2 separate regions of the Homo sapiens genome follow, and region 2 is linked to region 1. Evidence: fine-mapped expression QTL. Tissue or cell type: cerebral cortex. Region 1 holds a variant in brackets; the other region holds the start of a gene. All regions are shown on one strand. Distances are from middle to middle.

Region 1 (8,105 bases):
TGACAGTCAGGTATAACTCCAAAGAGAAACCCTTTCCCTGTTACCACTTATTAAATCAGTAGGACTCATATCTGTTAATTTTCCTTCTCTCTGTAAACATCTTATCAACATCAGAGAAAAAGAGACAGAGAATTAACAACAACATACTGAACGATGCCCTGACAATGAGAAATGAATCCCTTGCTAGTTTGGTAATGATGCATTTATTTGGCTCTGGATCTAGAGAATTTATATTGAGTAGTCAAAAGCCTGGGAAGGACTGAACTCTGTTGAACTCAGAAATCCTCTCTTGAGAGTTCTAGCTAAACTAGAACTACCACAGATAGGTGATAGCAGAATGCTATATTTGAAATGCTGCAAATAAATAAATTTATACATGCAAATCAAAATCTTTTAGTAAAATCACACAATTAACCTCTCACTGGGGAGAAAGAGCCAATGTAGATATATGCTTTAGAAAGTTGTTAATCATTTTCTCATTGCAACCTACTTTGAAATCACCTTGGCCTATTGTCTCTCATATATATATGTTTATATATATATATATATATATATGTATATATATATATAAACTTATTTTACACAATGTAGATTTATTTTATGCTGATATACTAGTAATGTTCTTCCCTACATTTTACAAACAATGAGATTTTCATTTATTGATGGCTGGTCTTTGCAATGGTCAGTACTCTTTGTAACTCTGACTTTTTACAGCACAGCCTTTGGCCTCCCCTGAATTTAGTGTCTTTGAACACCTGCTTCATTTTGTTGGTGCTGAGATTTCACATCTCATGTGCACTAACTGCTGTCATGTTATATGAAGTTGAAGTCATGTGTTTTGTAACAATGAGCTCTGGAACTATCCCTTACTGGCAGTGTGACTTTGAACCTTACTGCTGCTCCATTTAACCAACTGTAAAATGGTGATAATGGTAGAGCTGCTTCACTGATACTATTATTTAGTTCATGTTTAGAATAAGGTGTTTAAAACAGGTCTTGCAAAAGAAAGTGCTCAGTAAAATGGTAGCTAAATTGATATCACGCGTGTCCCCACAGTGGGTCTCCAATGTGACAGTCAATATCATTTGCGTATGAGCAGACAAAACTCTCTAGGTTTTAGGGGTTCATGGTTGATATTTCCATTTTGCCCTTCAGTGTGAAATTTCACTCACGTAGGACTTCATGGAAAGAATCTACCATCTTTCAAGGACTTACACAATCTTATGCCATCCTACCTGCCAAGACATTCCAGCTGCAAGTCCATTTTCCTGTATTGCTGACTTTCCTGGGTCTTTTCAGGATTATGTTACCTCTTCATCCTCATGCATGATTTAATTATCCGAACAAAGGTTCTTTCATTCACTCGAAGACAGCATAATACCTTAGATATTTGAAAATTTCTCAGAGTTCTAAAATTTCTCCTTTGTCTTTCACATCTTCCTTCTGAAAGATTTTACTAAGTGGGAGTTAATTTTATCTAAATTGATTCTTGAATATTGATCTTTGAAATCTGATGACTTATTTTCATAAATGTAGGCCAGGTCTCACTTGGTACTTAATGTTAATTTAGAAAATTCCAATAACGTGGCTAATGTTTGACAAACTTTGCCATTAATGCTAAACTGGGGAGGTCCCTTTGGCTTCCATTTTCAAAGGTGAGATCGTATCGTACTGATCCCGTCTGAGGATGCCTTCCTTATTAATTGAGGGTGGTGGGGCTGGAGTTTCTTCAAATCACTGGTCCATTCAATCTGATAGCAAGTCTGCCTGGGTGTTACTCATTTCCCATGCTATTTTCATGTCAAATACTGCTGTCCCCTTATGCAAGGGATACAATTCATTGAAACCTCGTTGGACTTCCTCCCACTTAACATTCTCCTACCTTCCGTGTTGACATTCTTCTACCTTCCAACTTCCGTGTTTACACTGAAAAAGCTGTTGCTGGGTAGCTTGGTTATTTTTTTTCCCATCAGACTCATAGGGATATTTTTGGATTATTGGTTATGATGAATATTTATGGAAAATGTTGCTGTGCACTCCAGTGAGAAATCAGTGTTAAAGAGGCTGGTCCCACAGCTATCTCTGTGTCCCTGGAAGCCGTGTCCTTTTTCTATTTAATTAGTGCCAAGTATATGGTCTTGCATGAAGGAGGACCCAGATTGAACTCCTGTAGCATGATGTGTGTTTCATGCACTCTACTGTTTTCACTGATTTATGGCATTTAATTATCAATCTGTTAATCCAAGTTTTTGTTTAATTGGATTCATCAAACTAATTGTATGAATTCCACTCTGTTATCATGGCCTGAACCTGAATATCAGATTCCCTTAATAAACAGAAACAGTGAATGTGTTCCTGCTTCTTCCTGATCAGGAAGGGGGTCTGCAGTCCTCTGGTCTTGTTTGTTTCGTAGCATTTCATTTTGTATTCAGCATTTCTTTGAGCGCCCTCTTTGCTTCTTGGAACCTTGCCTTACTACCATTGCCATTCTCATAGGTCCCTGCTCTACTGGACCTAAAATGGTAGGGAAGAAAGGAAGAGGAGGGGAGTAAGAAGAGAGGAAAAGGTGAGCTCTATTCTCCGTCAGCGTGTCTGTGGCTGTATTGATTCGGAAGTTTAAAATCTAAACTCCCTGTCTACAGTCTTGGCCTGTCTTGAAGGTTGTGAGTCAACTTAGTGAATACATGCAAGGTACTTTTAGGCTGTCTGGCTGGGAGATAAGTTGGGTCCAAAGAAAGTAATAGTTCAACATAGCATTCTCCTTAGATGGCAGCCTCCAGGCAAGAAGAAAAGCCCATGGCTTTGCCTGGAAGTTCTTGTGCAGGTCCAGCGTGTCACCAACTGGTGCTTCAGACACTGAGATGAGGCAAATACTTAGCATTCAGTTTCTTAACAAAGTGATTAACTTGATAGACATCTAGATTCTTTTTAAACATAAGAATATGGCTTTCTTTTCTTCAGGTGGTGTGTCCATTTTTGTCCATCGGATAGAAGGTGCTATCACAATATAAATGGCGCGTTGCGTA[C/T]GATCAGCAAGGGCTTCTTAAGTTACTCCCACTTCCTTAGTGATACTGTCCAGTCTCATTGCTTCAAACGCCAATCCCAAATGTCTCTGTTCCAGAACTTTCCCAAACTCCAGACTCAGATATCCAACCTCACACTTGACATCTCCACTGAATTTCTAAAAACTTCTGAAATTTAACAAATCCAAAGCCAAATTCTTGTCTCCCCAAACCCATTTCACTTCTCATTCTTCCCATCTCAGTTGATGGCAATTTCTGTTTTTTTTCTGGTGGCTTAGGGTAAAAATCTGTAGTCATTCTTGACTTTTTTTTTTTTTTTTTTGGAAACAGAGTTTTGCTTTTTGTTGCCCAGGCTGGAGTGCAGTGGCACGATCTCGGCTCACTGCAACCTCCGCCTCCCACGTTCAAGGGATTCTTCTGTCTCAGCCTCCCAACTAGGTGGGATTACAGGCACCCACCACCACGCCCAGCCAATTTTTCTATTTTTAGTAGAGACGGGGTTTCACCATGTTGGCCAGGCTGGTCTTGAACTCCAGACCTCAGGTGATCCGCCCACCTCAGCCTCCCAAAGTGCTGGGATTACAGGTGTGAGCTACCGCACCCAGCCAACTTTTCTTTTTCTTACACCTGGCATTTGACCCACCAGGAAAGCTATTGTCTCTACCTTTAAAATATATCTAAAATCTGCCCACTTATCACTAACTCCTGCTAATGCACTAGTTTAAGTCCCTATTGGGACATAGAATATGATACTACAAAGTACAGCACCTTGGAAACTGAGAAAACAGCAGAAGCAGAAAGGGTACTCTGACCATCTGCTGTCTTTCTGTGTGAGCTGATCTTAAAGGACTCTCTTGCTTACCTTCCCTGAAAGGTGAGCATAAGACCCTTATGTGACAGTTGCCCTGCCCCCCAATGTGGAGGGAAGGAATGCTACACAGAGGCCAAGGAGATTCTGAACAAACAGCCATGCTGAGCTCCAGTTTATCACCATTAGATCATGTTTTTGTCCAATCACGTTTCTACACAGCTGTCCATTTTTCATATGCTTCATTGAACCTAAGCACAAAAATAGACAGTTTTCTCTGGGTCTTGGGGTCTTCATCTCTGAAGGCTCCTATATCACATAAAACTTTGGTCACATAAATTTGTCATGCCTTTCTCTTGTTAACCTGTCTTTTGTTATAGGGGTGTCAGCCATGACCCTGGTGATGGGTGAGAAAAAATATTCTACTTTTCCTCCTCCACATCTCCATCATCTTTTCCTGGACGATTGCACTAACCTCCTCCATGTCTTTCTGCTTCCACCCCATCCTCCCTTATGGTGTATTCTCAACATAGTTGCTGTAGGTCAATCTCATTTTTTTCTTCTACAGTGTTTTTCCATTCCACTCAGAACACTCAAAATCCTGATAGTGGCTTTCTAGTTACTACAGCTGTGCAACAAAACATCCCCAAACTTAATGACTTAACATCACCATTAATTATGTGCAAAATTCTGTGAGTCAGGAATTCAGACAGGGTATAGTGGGGGGGACTTGTCTCCATCCTGCGATGTCTGGGTCCCTCAGACTCAGAGGCACTAACCACCTGAAAGCTCATTCACTCAGGTATCTGGAGGTTGGTGCTGGATGTATTCTAAGACCATCACCCAGGTTTTCAGCTTAAACACCTACACAGGGCCTCTCCATGTGGCTTGGGCTTCCTCACAAAATGGTGGCTGGGTTCCCAGGACAGAGAGCCACGCAGAAACTGGACTCTAGCCTCAGAAGAGTTATAGAATCCCTTCCATCATACTCAGTGGGTTGGAGCAGTCACAGCCTGTCCACATTCAAGAAGAGGGAAATAGTCTTTACCTCTTGATAGGGAGTGGCAAGGTTCTGGAAGAGTATGTGGTACCAGAAATATTGCTGTGGCCATTTTGAGACTATAGTCTACCACAGTGGCCCGCTTGATTGGACCTGGGTTGTTTCTCTGCCTTCATCTTTTCTCCCTATGGAACATTTGGCTCCGGCCACACTTGCTAGAGCATGCAGATGTGCTTCTGCCCTGGGGCCTTCAGACTGCCTACTCCATTCACAAGATGCCTGTTGATGCCCTCTTCCCTCCCTCCGCAAACTTTTATGGAGTGTCATTTCCCCAGTGATGCCTTCCCTGACCACTCTACAGCCCCTTTTCACTTGCTGTCTTTTTTTTTCCCCTTAAATCCTTATTGTCATTACCACCTTCTAATGTTTTATGGAATTTTTATGTTTATTCTTTAGCATCCCTTGCTGCCAGAATGGAAGCACTACAGAAGCAGGAATCTTTACCTCTTCTGTCCACTGAGCTATCTCACATGCCTAGAACAGTGTGTGGCACATAAATATGTATGGGATGTGAAACAGAGAGGGCGTTTCTGGTTTGGGCATTTGGAATTTGCAATAATTGCTCCAGCTAGCACAACTAAGTTTGTGTGTTAGACCAGCATAAGTCAATAAAAAAAGATACCAACTTAAACAGTTGTTTTCATTGTGTAAATGTCTCTTTTTATCTTTTATGGACTAATGAACCAGAATGTTTAATTGTTTTAATTTCCATCTAAATATTTAGTTTCTTTATGAGGAATGGCAGGGTACTTTTTCCAGTTCCACAGTCCCTCACCTTACACATACACGTTGACTGAAATAGAAGTCTAAGAATCCCCAGACACTCCAGTAGCATGAATCTGGGCAGCCTGGCTTCTGTGTTTCCACATTCTCCAACTTTAGAGTACATGAGCCCTTCAGCATAAATAACCCTTCAGAATAAAGGTTGTAATAAAAACAATGATAAAACCCACAATAACAATAATAATACTAGTAATAGACATGGCAGCACCATTGATAATTCCAGCCACCATTTGCTAGAAACCCCTTGGCTGCAGGTGTTCTTCCAGGCACTTGGTGTGCACGTCTGTTAGTTATTATCTTGAGAGGAAGGCACCTTCATTCCTCGGATGAGCAAAAGGGGAGAACTTGTTCAAAGTATATCAAATCTCTTTTATCCGTAAAGTGCCTCTTTGATCTGCTGAACCATAGCAATCATTCATTCCTTCAACATTTGGTAATTAGGAAGCGCTGAGTTTATCTCAAAGAGTAGCTGATCTCATCACTCATTGGATGTTGAGCAGTTGATTTCTAGTTACTGGCAGAATCCCATGTTTATGTTTATTTCTCAATGAAAGGTTCCACAATCCTCCTCTACCCCTAGTGTGGCTCTTCTGGTTCATCTGTAGGATGGGAATCATTACACTGTCAGGTTCTCTTTCCCTGTATTGGACAACCGAGCCAATGGCTATCAGTTGGGAAAGGTAAGAGATAGAGCACATGTCATCCAGTGATAGACTATCAGTGAGCTGCTTTTTAAAGACTACAGCAAGGCTGGCTCAGCGCTATTGCTCCAGCCTCTGACTTTCTCCTGCAGAGACACTCAGAGCCCCGGAATCCTCCCCAACTCATGACTTCAGGCAGCCACTCCAGTGGATTTGAGTGTTTTCCAAACATAGAATGTTACGATTACTAGTGGCTTGACCTCAATCCTTTGGCTTTGAGCTTTTAGTTGAATGGTTTTTATTCAATTGTGACTGCAGTTGCATTAACTTTGGATTTCCTTTTTTTCCCCCAGAAACAAGTGTGAAGGAAAATACTATGAAGTACATGGAAACACTTAAGAATAAACTGTGCAGGTAAGGATAATAATTTCTGTATTTCAGACTCCGTAGCACATCTAGATTCTTTATTATAACAGAATTTAGTTAAATCGATGAAAAAGGCTGGCCAGTTTCTCTAATAAATTAACAAAGAAAGACACAAAAAAGCCTTTTGAACCCCATCAGTGAAAGAGCAGGTGCCAGCCCTCATCTTGTCTTTTAAAAAGTAAGTAGATTAAGATGTTTAAAAGTGTCTTGGAGAGATCACAGGAGAGTTTTCATGTTCCATAAGAGAAGAATCTTCTTTACTATATTAAATTCAGAATTCATTCCTTAGTCTGTTTTTCCCTTTTTTAAACTTTAGTGTTTGAGGGGGGTCTTAAGGATTTTAAGGCGGTTTATACATGGTTTGGAATAATATAGAAATGCACGTCTTAGGTTCTGTTTTGAATCCTGAATCAAAACCAGCATGAAAATTTCTGGTTGCTTTTTTTAAAACCCAATTAGGAATTCATCTTTGAGAAATGTCAGGGATGCTGCAGCATGACAAGATGTTTCTGGCTTTTGTGGATGTGTGCTTAGGAAAATAAATCCCAGTCATCAGAATCTGTTCCTAATTAAGGCAACAAGTACTAGAGTGGAATATGCGCTTTCTTCCCTGGAAGTCATTTAGTTTTATGGAGACCATTTTGCTATTATTTTGGAATTTGTTAAGTAACTCTTTAGATAGGCTATGCCTTAAGCCTTTGTCTGCTAGGACGCTGTCTTGAGCTAAAATGCTGCTTTTCCATTAAGAGATGTTGAGAGGGCCTGCCTTGCAGAGCCCTACTCTTCAGGGTAAGCAAGGCACTACAGGATTTATTCTCATCCTTGGAAAGCCGTCCTATAACCTCCTGATTGATCTTTCCCTGCTTCCCATGCTCCTAGACTTGGGAAGAATCTATGACACAGGTGGTTAGCAGAGGTGAGCAGAATGAGGAGAGCTTGCACCTGGGTCAGATGCTCCGCTCTGAGTCTGGCCTTCCTCCTCTCGCATGTGTTCGGGGCAGATTTCTGGCACATCCTTCTTGATCTCAACTGCAGCTGCCATTGTTTTAGCCATCAGCACAGCACACACCGTAAGTTACATTAGGTTATCAGGCAGCCAGTGGTAGCCATAAGCACGTGGGTATTGGTAAAGAGACACCCATTTAAATTGCAGCTCTCCCACATAAAAACTGCCTAACCTTAGGTAAGTGCTCACTTTCTGTTCAGTTTGTTTTGTTTTGTTTTTTTAGCTATATAACTGGAGGAAAGGTACCTACCTCCCCAGCTGGTGTGTGAATTTAAATACCATATGTAAAGCATTCATGTGATTGGTAGTAGGCACGCATTAGTTTCCTTTACCTTCTTCTTATTTATTTATTTATTTA
Region 2 (8,105 bases), 720 kb before region 1:
TTAACCAGACACACTCACATTTTCAAAGGACACATTTAAAAAAAAAACAAGAGGAAAGGGCAGAGAGCAGCAATGACAAATGAAAATTTTCATTAAGGTCAGGAAGTTCAAAACGTAGAGTGAGCTGAGGCTCCTGAGAAGAGCCAACTAGAATGCATCAGGGCTCGCTTGGAACGGGAAGCAAAAGACAATTTGACAGACTGCCACAGATGTTCTATTATTAAGCAACAGGGAAATGCAGACTCATTCAATCCCAACTCTTCTGTCTTTTCTATTAAAAAGAAAACTTTCCATTCCAGAAAAAAGAACATGAGGGAATATAAGAGGAAACTGAAGTCTGAGACATTTGAAGAAACAAGAAAGGGTGCCTAAATGCTTTATGTTAGTTGAAGTCTTCAAATGCTGAATTATATTGCAAAGCAGTGCTCACCAACATTTTTCATATCATGACACATACAGAAAATACCAGTATTTGTAGGGTACACTGGGGTACTGGGAGATGGCCAGCTTCGGGGCTCTGGTTGCCCCAAACACCAAGGGAATCCATTTCTTGACCCTCCCGTAACAGTTCCCAGAGCCTTATATTTGGAACATAAGAGTTAAGAAGCTTATCTAGAATCCTAAAATAAAGGTAGACATGGTTACAGATTCACTAATAATCTTTTTTTTTTTTTTTGGAGAAAGGGTCTCGCTCTGTCACCCCCGCTGGAGTGCAGTGACACAATCACAGCCCACTGCAGTCTCGACTTCCTGAAGTCAAGCAATCCTCTGGCCTTGGCATCCCAAAGTGCTCGGATTACTGGCGTGAGCCACCACGCTCAGCCTGCAGAATGCGCTAACGATCTTTGAGGAAGAGATGCCAGCAAGCTTGATATGAAATGCTACCTGAATTTTAGAAAAGATTATACAGATGGTTTTTAAAACCATAAAGATGTGGCAAACACTGGACACTAACATACATTTATACATTCATAAAGAACAATGCAAGCCAAACCATCTTCGTAGTGGGTAGAATTGTGGCCTCTAAAAACATATGGCCATGTCCTACTCCTCTTCAGAACCTGTGAATGTGATCTTACTTGGAGAGGGATCTTTATAATTAAACATCTCAAAAGGAGATCATCCCAGATTCAGGGTGGGCCTAAAGCAAAGAGGAAGGCAGAGGGAAACATGAGACTCAGGGACACAGGGATGAAAACCACATTAAGACGGAGGCAGAGATTATAGTTATGCAACCACAAGCCAAGGAAACTGTTAGAGCTACCTTCTGGTCAGAGGCAAAGGATTCTCCCCCAAAGCCCTCAGAGGGAGCATGGCCCTGCCAACACTTTGATTTTGGACTTCTGGACTACGGAACTGTAAGAGAATACATTTCTGTTGGTTTAAGTCACCATGTTTGTGGTAATTTGTTATAGCAGGCTTAGAAACTAATACGTTCAATCCTCACTTCTTTGTTGATAGACAAAGGTTTGCAGGACGTGGGGGATGTTACAGAAATGGAATAGCAATGAATTTGTCAAAGCCATTATGATATTCTTGTGAATAGATAAATTAAAAACATTTGGGGCCAGGCGCAGTGGCTCACGCCTGTAGTCCCAGCATTTGGGGAAGCCAAGGCGGGCAGATCACGAGGTCGGGAGATCAAGACCATCCTGGCTAACATGGTGAAACCCTGACTCTACTAAAAATACAAAAAACTAGCCAGGCGTGGTGGCAGGCACCTGTAGTCCCAGTTACTTGGGAGGCTGAGGCAGAAGAATGGCATGAACCTGGGAGGTGGAGCTTGCAATGAGCTAAGATCGTGCCACTGCACTCCAGCCTGGGCAACAGAACGAGACTCCGTCTCAAAAAAAAAAAAAATTAAAAACATTTGGAGGAGCAACCACACCTCCCTTGGGGACTGAATTTTAGGTGAGATTTACAAGCTCACTCTGAAAAAGATTACTGCTCAGAAAAATCAAATTGCTTTTCCACCAGCATTGCTTTTCCTCGAGAGCAAGAATTTCTATACATTTGGTTCACTGCTATATCCCAGTGCCTACAACTGTGGCTAGCACATAACAGGAATGCCAGAAAGAGTTGCTGTAAGAGTTAACTCAGCAGGCCTGTGTTTACCAAACCCTGCACATTCCCAAGAAAGTCCTATTTTCATGACTGGCAGTTGGCTGCCTCCTGAGAATTGAGCAATTAGAATATTCTGCCTGATCAGAGTGTTTTTGCATACCTGAGGTCTTGAGCCACTGCTGTACCAAGTTTTCCCAGACAGTTTATACTAGCAATGTGATTGATGGTGAATACCTGCTTTTCACTGGAGGTCTAGAACTTGAATAACTAAGGTCAGTCTGTAGGCCTACATGACTGATAAGGGCTATATGCTGAGTCTTGGGTCCTGTGAGTCCTTTTGGCAAATCTGCAGGCCTGAGGATAGTCAGGCATTCCTGCCACAGTCTAAAGAGCTATTCACCTAATACTACAATACCAGGGGGTTCACCACGTATATATAAGCTAACCAACTCATTACCTTTGTGTTCTTGTTATGATCTGGCGTCAATTTTCTTTTTTTATTGCTGTGAAATTCTACCACTTCTACTTGTTCCCTATTGTTCTTTAGGGAAGAGGGAGGAACTGCAGCAGCAAGGATCTCTGGTCCTGTGGGGGTCCCAGAAGGAGCACAATGCCGCTCTTCTCTAAGTTCCTTGAAGAAGCTCGAAGCGCTCTTCCTCTGGCCTCTTATGAGAGAACCAGGTAGGGGAGATGGCTCTGCTGCCAAGGCCGCTGAAGCCATCACATCTCTCTTCTTGTTTTCCCTTTTCTTTATGATCTTCTTCTGTTCTGTTTCACCTTCTGTACCTCCTGTTTGTTCAAACACAAGAAGGAAAATAAATATTTTCAGTCTTAGCTATCATCAGTATCAAATCCTACGAATGTATTTGTACATATTCCAGGGCTATATGCACCTAGAAGCACACACAAAGAAATAAACTATTTGTTTTCTTTCAAATAAGTGTATTTGCAAAATGCAGAGAATCCAAAATGTAGTCATCTTTTCCTAGGTAACTATGTCTTTGACCCTTATTAGCACAATCACTTTAGTCTCCACTTTGGTTCCTACTCAAAGTGTCATCACAGCAATAGTCCCCAGGGCTGGTAATCCCAATTGGCTTTATACTAAAAATATCAGGCACTGCAGCCACTGTTTCTTTTTAACACTTTCTGGGTTACAGGAACATGGAATAGTCTTCCTATTTTCTTTCACAGTTAGGAATTAAGATGAACCTAAGACAACTGGCTCAATTTGAATGCCTTTGTTTTCTATTAATTCCTCTTTCTATATTTCACTTGTTGAAGCTCTGACCAGTCACCTGAAAGTTCTAACCAGAATCCTAGGCATCCTTACTCACATGTATTACAAATACCACAGAGCTCTCTAAATTACCAGCTGCTGATTTATGCTTGCTACTATTTGCTTAATCTTTTATACAATAAACATTTAAGAGCCAACTAAACTTTGGCATTAAGGATATAAAAATGAATAGACACATTCAATGCCTTCAGAGCTCCTACCATGATTTCCAGCCTGTGTTGACATGAACTATATTATTTTGCAGAATAGTCTTTTCCTCTAGATTTTAAACTTCTCAAGGTCAGAGACTAAGTCTTCTCTGTCCTCCAATATGTCCAAGGGCACAGAAATGCTAGTTAATACAAGCATGGGGTCTGGGGCTAGAATCAGAACCCAGGCTCTGCAAAAATTACCAGTCAGACAACCTGCATCAGGTTTCATGAACTTCTAGTACTTGTTTCTACATCTGCAATCATGGATTTATGACAGTGTCTATTTCATGAAGTTGAAAATTAAATGAGCAAATACACGAAAAGCATGTGCTATATGGCAAGTTCTCAACAGTTTTAACTATTATTCCTACTGTTTAGGTGAACTTAGAATTTTGAGCAGTCATTCCAAAATAAAAATAGCTTTTAAAATATCACGCTGTAAATTTAAGAAATGTGTGTTGTCCTGAAATCTAATGATTTTCTTTGGTGCATGTGCAAAGGGTGTCACCTTCTCCCGGGAAAGCTCTTCAGAGTATGAGGCACTGTCTTCCTACTGACATGCCATGCGACTTTAATAGGCTCTTTTATTTTCCTTTTCCCCCATCAAGACAAAGAACGGAGAGTAAAAGATCAGCGCACTTGTTTAAAAAAAAAAAAGTCGTGAAAAGGACAACTCGCCAAGGACTATGATGTCTCTGGAGAGGGACACACAAGGATGAAGCTGGTGTATTATCCAACAGGCCCGAGGCCCCAGAGCGAAATGACACCATCGCACCAGGGTCAGGCAGGTCTTGGGGGTGGCATGGGGAAAGGGGACTTCCCAGGGCTCAAGAAAACGTGGAAAAGCGGGCTACTTTTAAATCGGAAAGCCTTGGTGCTTCCTACAAGCAAGTAGGATGGTCCCCACACTTGGGGACGAGTTGGAAGGTTTGATGAATAACTCAGCAGAGCCCGGTCGAGGGGTGACTTCCGATGGAGAAATGTGTTCGCTACTGGAACCAGGTGGGACGAAGGGTGCTTGACATGCAAGAACCTTTAGCCTCAAAGCAGAGGCCAACCCAGGACGGGCAACACAGGAGACCCACGTTCCTCAAATCTGTTCTCCACGTGGGCTCCTGGGACCCCGCACTCACCAAAGTCGTAAAGGTTCTGGAGCAGAGCGTCAAGAAGTGTCGGAGAACTGGGAGGCGTGGAGGACCCCGGCCCTTGCTCCTGCGACATTGTGGGGTCAGCCGAGGAATCAACCCTCATTCTGCCGCGCTGCACCCCCGCTTCCGGGTTCCGCGACTGCGCGCATGCGCTGCAGGGCCCTGCGCGGCTTCCGTCCTGGCTGAGATGGCGGCGCCCGGGATCCTGTGTAGCGGCTGCAGAGGGTGCCGCCGCCCTAGGCGAAGTAGGGCCGTCCTGAGCGAAAGAACCGCCCCCAGCAGGAGCACCACCACGGCTTAGCAAAGAATCCCAGACCCCGCCCGGGAAGGCAGCCGCACCATGGAGTCTTCCAGTTCATCTAACTCTTATTTCTCCGTTGGCCCAACCAGTCCCAGCGCTGTCGTGCTCCTCTACTCGGTAGGCGCCCAGGGAAAAGAGGCCCAGAGCGGAGCCGCGCGAAATAGTACCCCTTTCTCCCAGTCCCTATTCCTCCGGCCCACCACCCTTGCCCAAAAGAGCTGGCCCCTAGGCTCCCGAGGAGGGGTTAGTTGGTTGGATTGGTTTCCAGGACAACAGTGTATCGCTGTGTGTCTGTGTGTGCATGCTTTTGGAAGTTTCTACGGATTATGGTTCCTTTGGTTCCTTTCCACTTTTTCCTTCTCTTTCTTTCTATCAGGCCCTGGGGCCTTCAGAAAGCTCCTGGACACGAGAATGAGGAATGAGAATTGGAGTCTCCCCATCTCTAGCGAGGGCATGTCGAGCTACCTTTTGGGCAAACCTGAGAAACTTGCGGGTTTGACCCGCCCTGAGATAGCCTGTGGCTCCGCACCCCGCCCTATGCTGCTGTTATATTCCTGGGAGTAGAGCACTTGGCTTGTATGTGGGAATAGAGTTTTAAACACTTCAGGAAAATTTAGAACTTCTAGACATTTTTATTGCCTGTTCTTGTCTTCCAGTCATTATTGTACCTTTTCCACAAATCATTTTGGAGGACAGCCAGCGCCACCCAGCTTCTCTCCCGCTTGTCTTTTTTTCCTCCAACCCCCTCTTCCTCTCTTGGTTTTAACGGGTCTTTTTGGCTGGCAGATGTTGGTCACCCACGATTTTCATGAAGAAATTATGAGATGGGAGCTTTATAGCCTTCAGGATTGCACAGACCTGGGGCAACTGGTTTGGTTTTTGTTTGTTTCTTGTTGTTTTTAACCACTAAATTAGTTTTTAGCTACTTTAGGAGAAAATGAAAGAATTCATTTTAAAAGCATATTAGCATATCCTGGTGATTACTGTCCAATTTTGGCTTAAATGTAGTGTTCATTTGTGCAGAAAGGTCAAAACAGGGATAACACAGCAGAGCAAGATAAACACCCCAGTTTTGAAAGAGAATATATGGGTTCCTTCAAATTGAGACACCAATATTCTTTGGAACATGGAGAAACTTCTGTTCCCTCTCTATCAAGACCTTTCGGTTTCTGATTGCTAACTGCCTATAAGCCTTATTATTTAGATATATCTCTTCATTGATCTTATCTTCCCCACAGTTCTGTGGTGGATATCAACTTTGTTTTCTGACTCTGCTACTCCAGAGCAGGCACGAAGGGAAGAGGGTTGCTGTGCAGATCCAGCTTTTAACATGTAGCTTTTTAAGCTCCCAACTGGTTTGTGAATTGGTTGGAATTTTCCTTTTGTACATTAAAGGAAGGAGTTGGTTTTGTTTGTTTGTTTGTTTGTTTTACTTCCCCTTTACCAACGGTTCTTTAATAAGACTTGAGTCCACTTTTTCATGTGAAAAACTATGGCAGTTGTATCTGAGCATTCTGTAGTTCTGATGCTGGACAGCAACCCACTCTTTACTGGTAGTTCTCACTACTGTTTTGTGACTGGATAACCTTTACTTCCACGGTAACCTTACTTTTTCTTAGTACTTCAGGCTGTTTTTATTTCCCCAGCTACGCTGTTATTGTGTAATATTCTGATCTAAAAGTAGCACTTTAGAAGCGTAGAAGATACTGCTGATTGCAGCAAACATTAGGAATATATACAGTATCCTACTCATTATTCTCAGTTTCCAAGATATAGAAGTTACAGATGCAGGCTCTGCCTTTAAGGGCACAAAAAGTCATAAAAGTAAACAAACAATCACAGTTAAGTATGGTAAGGGCAATGATTGAAGCATGCACAGCGTGTTGTGGGAGAGACAAGAAGGGGCACCTGACCAGTTTGGGAACTTGGAGAAGGTTTCTAAGAAAAGGTGATATCTAAGCTGATCTTCCTTTTTTGTTTTTGTTTTTGTTTTTGTTTTGTTTTGGAGACAGCCTTGCTCTGTTGCCAGGCTGGAGAACAGTGGCTCGATCTTGGTTCACTGCAACCTCCATCTCCGGGGCTCAAGCGATTCTCCTGCCTCAGCCTCCCGAGTAGCTGGGATTTTAGGCACACGCCACCCCGCCCTGCTAATGTTTGTATTTTTAGTAAAGACAAGGTCTCACCGTGTTGGCCAGGCCGGTCTTGAACTCCTGACCTCAAGTGATCTACTCACCTCCCAAAGTGCTGGAATTACAGGCATGAGCCACTGTGCCTGGCATGAGCTGAGTTTTTGAGCTGTGAATGGCAGATGAGGGAGAGGAAAACTGTCCTAGATGTTGATGTAAAAAAAACTACTCCCTTGCATATTTGGGGTTAGAATTAGTTAGATTTGGGTGGAAGAAAGGAGACATGAGAAACAAAGTAAGGAAGTAGGCAGATATTTCCTAAAGAAATTTTATGTGTCGTGTTTACATATCCTTAGGGATAAAATCTTAACTTTATGGGAGATTTTAATCTTACATCTATGTGTGTGTGTGTGTATACACATATATATATAAATATATGTGTGTATATGTATTTTTTTTTTGACATGGTGTCTCACTCTGTCACCCAGGCTGGAGTGTAATGGCACAATCTTGGCTCACTGCAACCTCCACCTCCAGGGTTCAAGAGATTCTCCTGTCTCAGCATCCCAAGTAGCTGGGATTACAGTTGCCTGCCACCACACCCGGCTAATTTTTGTATTTTTAGTAGAGTCGGGGTTTCACCATGTCGGCCAGGCTGGTGTCGAACTCCCGGTCTCAAGTGATCCACCTGCCTTGGCCTTCCAAAGTACATTTATATTTTTGAAAGTCTGAGAAGACTATAGGTTTCTGGTGTGATTATCTGTATAGGTAACCTGTTTTGCCTAAGTAGAGACTGTAGGAAGAGAATCAGGTTGGGTAGGGAATCTGATGCATAAAAGTGGAGATCAGTTAGAATGCTATTGCAGTAATCCAGAGAAGTAATGAAGCAGTAACAGTGAGCCCAGGAAGAAGGGAAATTGATGAATTTATGTGATATTTAGGACAGTAAATCATCATCCTTTGGAACCATTTGAA

What was found. PIP is the estimated chance that this variant, and not a neighbour inherited with it, causes the effect.
Region 2: GNPAT starts here. The variant in region 1 is fine-mapped to the expression of GNPAT in cerebral cortex (GTEx, PIP above 0.99).

The regions. Positions count from the first base shown.
Region 1 is chr1:231,952,160-231,960,264 of GRCh38, forward strand. DISC1 (DISC1 scaffold protein) reads left to right here. Exons shown (of 13, transcript NM_018662.3): 10 at 6,669-6,729. It overlaps TSNAX-DISC1 (TSNAX-DISC1 readthrough (NMD candidate)), which reads left to right. Exons shown (of 16, transcript NR_028393.1): 13 at 6,669-6,729. Among named protein-coding and RNA genes, the nearest start is that of DISC1-IT1, 30 kb to the left of the region's middle. The variant C/T (reference allele first, on the strand shown) is at 3,027.
Region 2 is chr1:231,236,336-231,244,440 of GRCh38, forward strand. GNPAT (glyceronephosphate O-acyltransferase) reads left to right here and starts at 4,877. Exons shown (of 16, transcript NM_014236.4): 1 at 4,877-5,121. The coding sequence starts at 5,044. FSAF1 (40S small subunit processome assembly factor 1) reads right to left here and starts at 4,840. Exons shown (of 7, transcript NM_152379.4): 1 at 4,689-4,840; 2 at 2,522-2,853. The coding sequence starts at 4,806. RefSeq lists enhancers at 4,570-4,909, 4,890-5,779.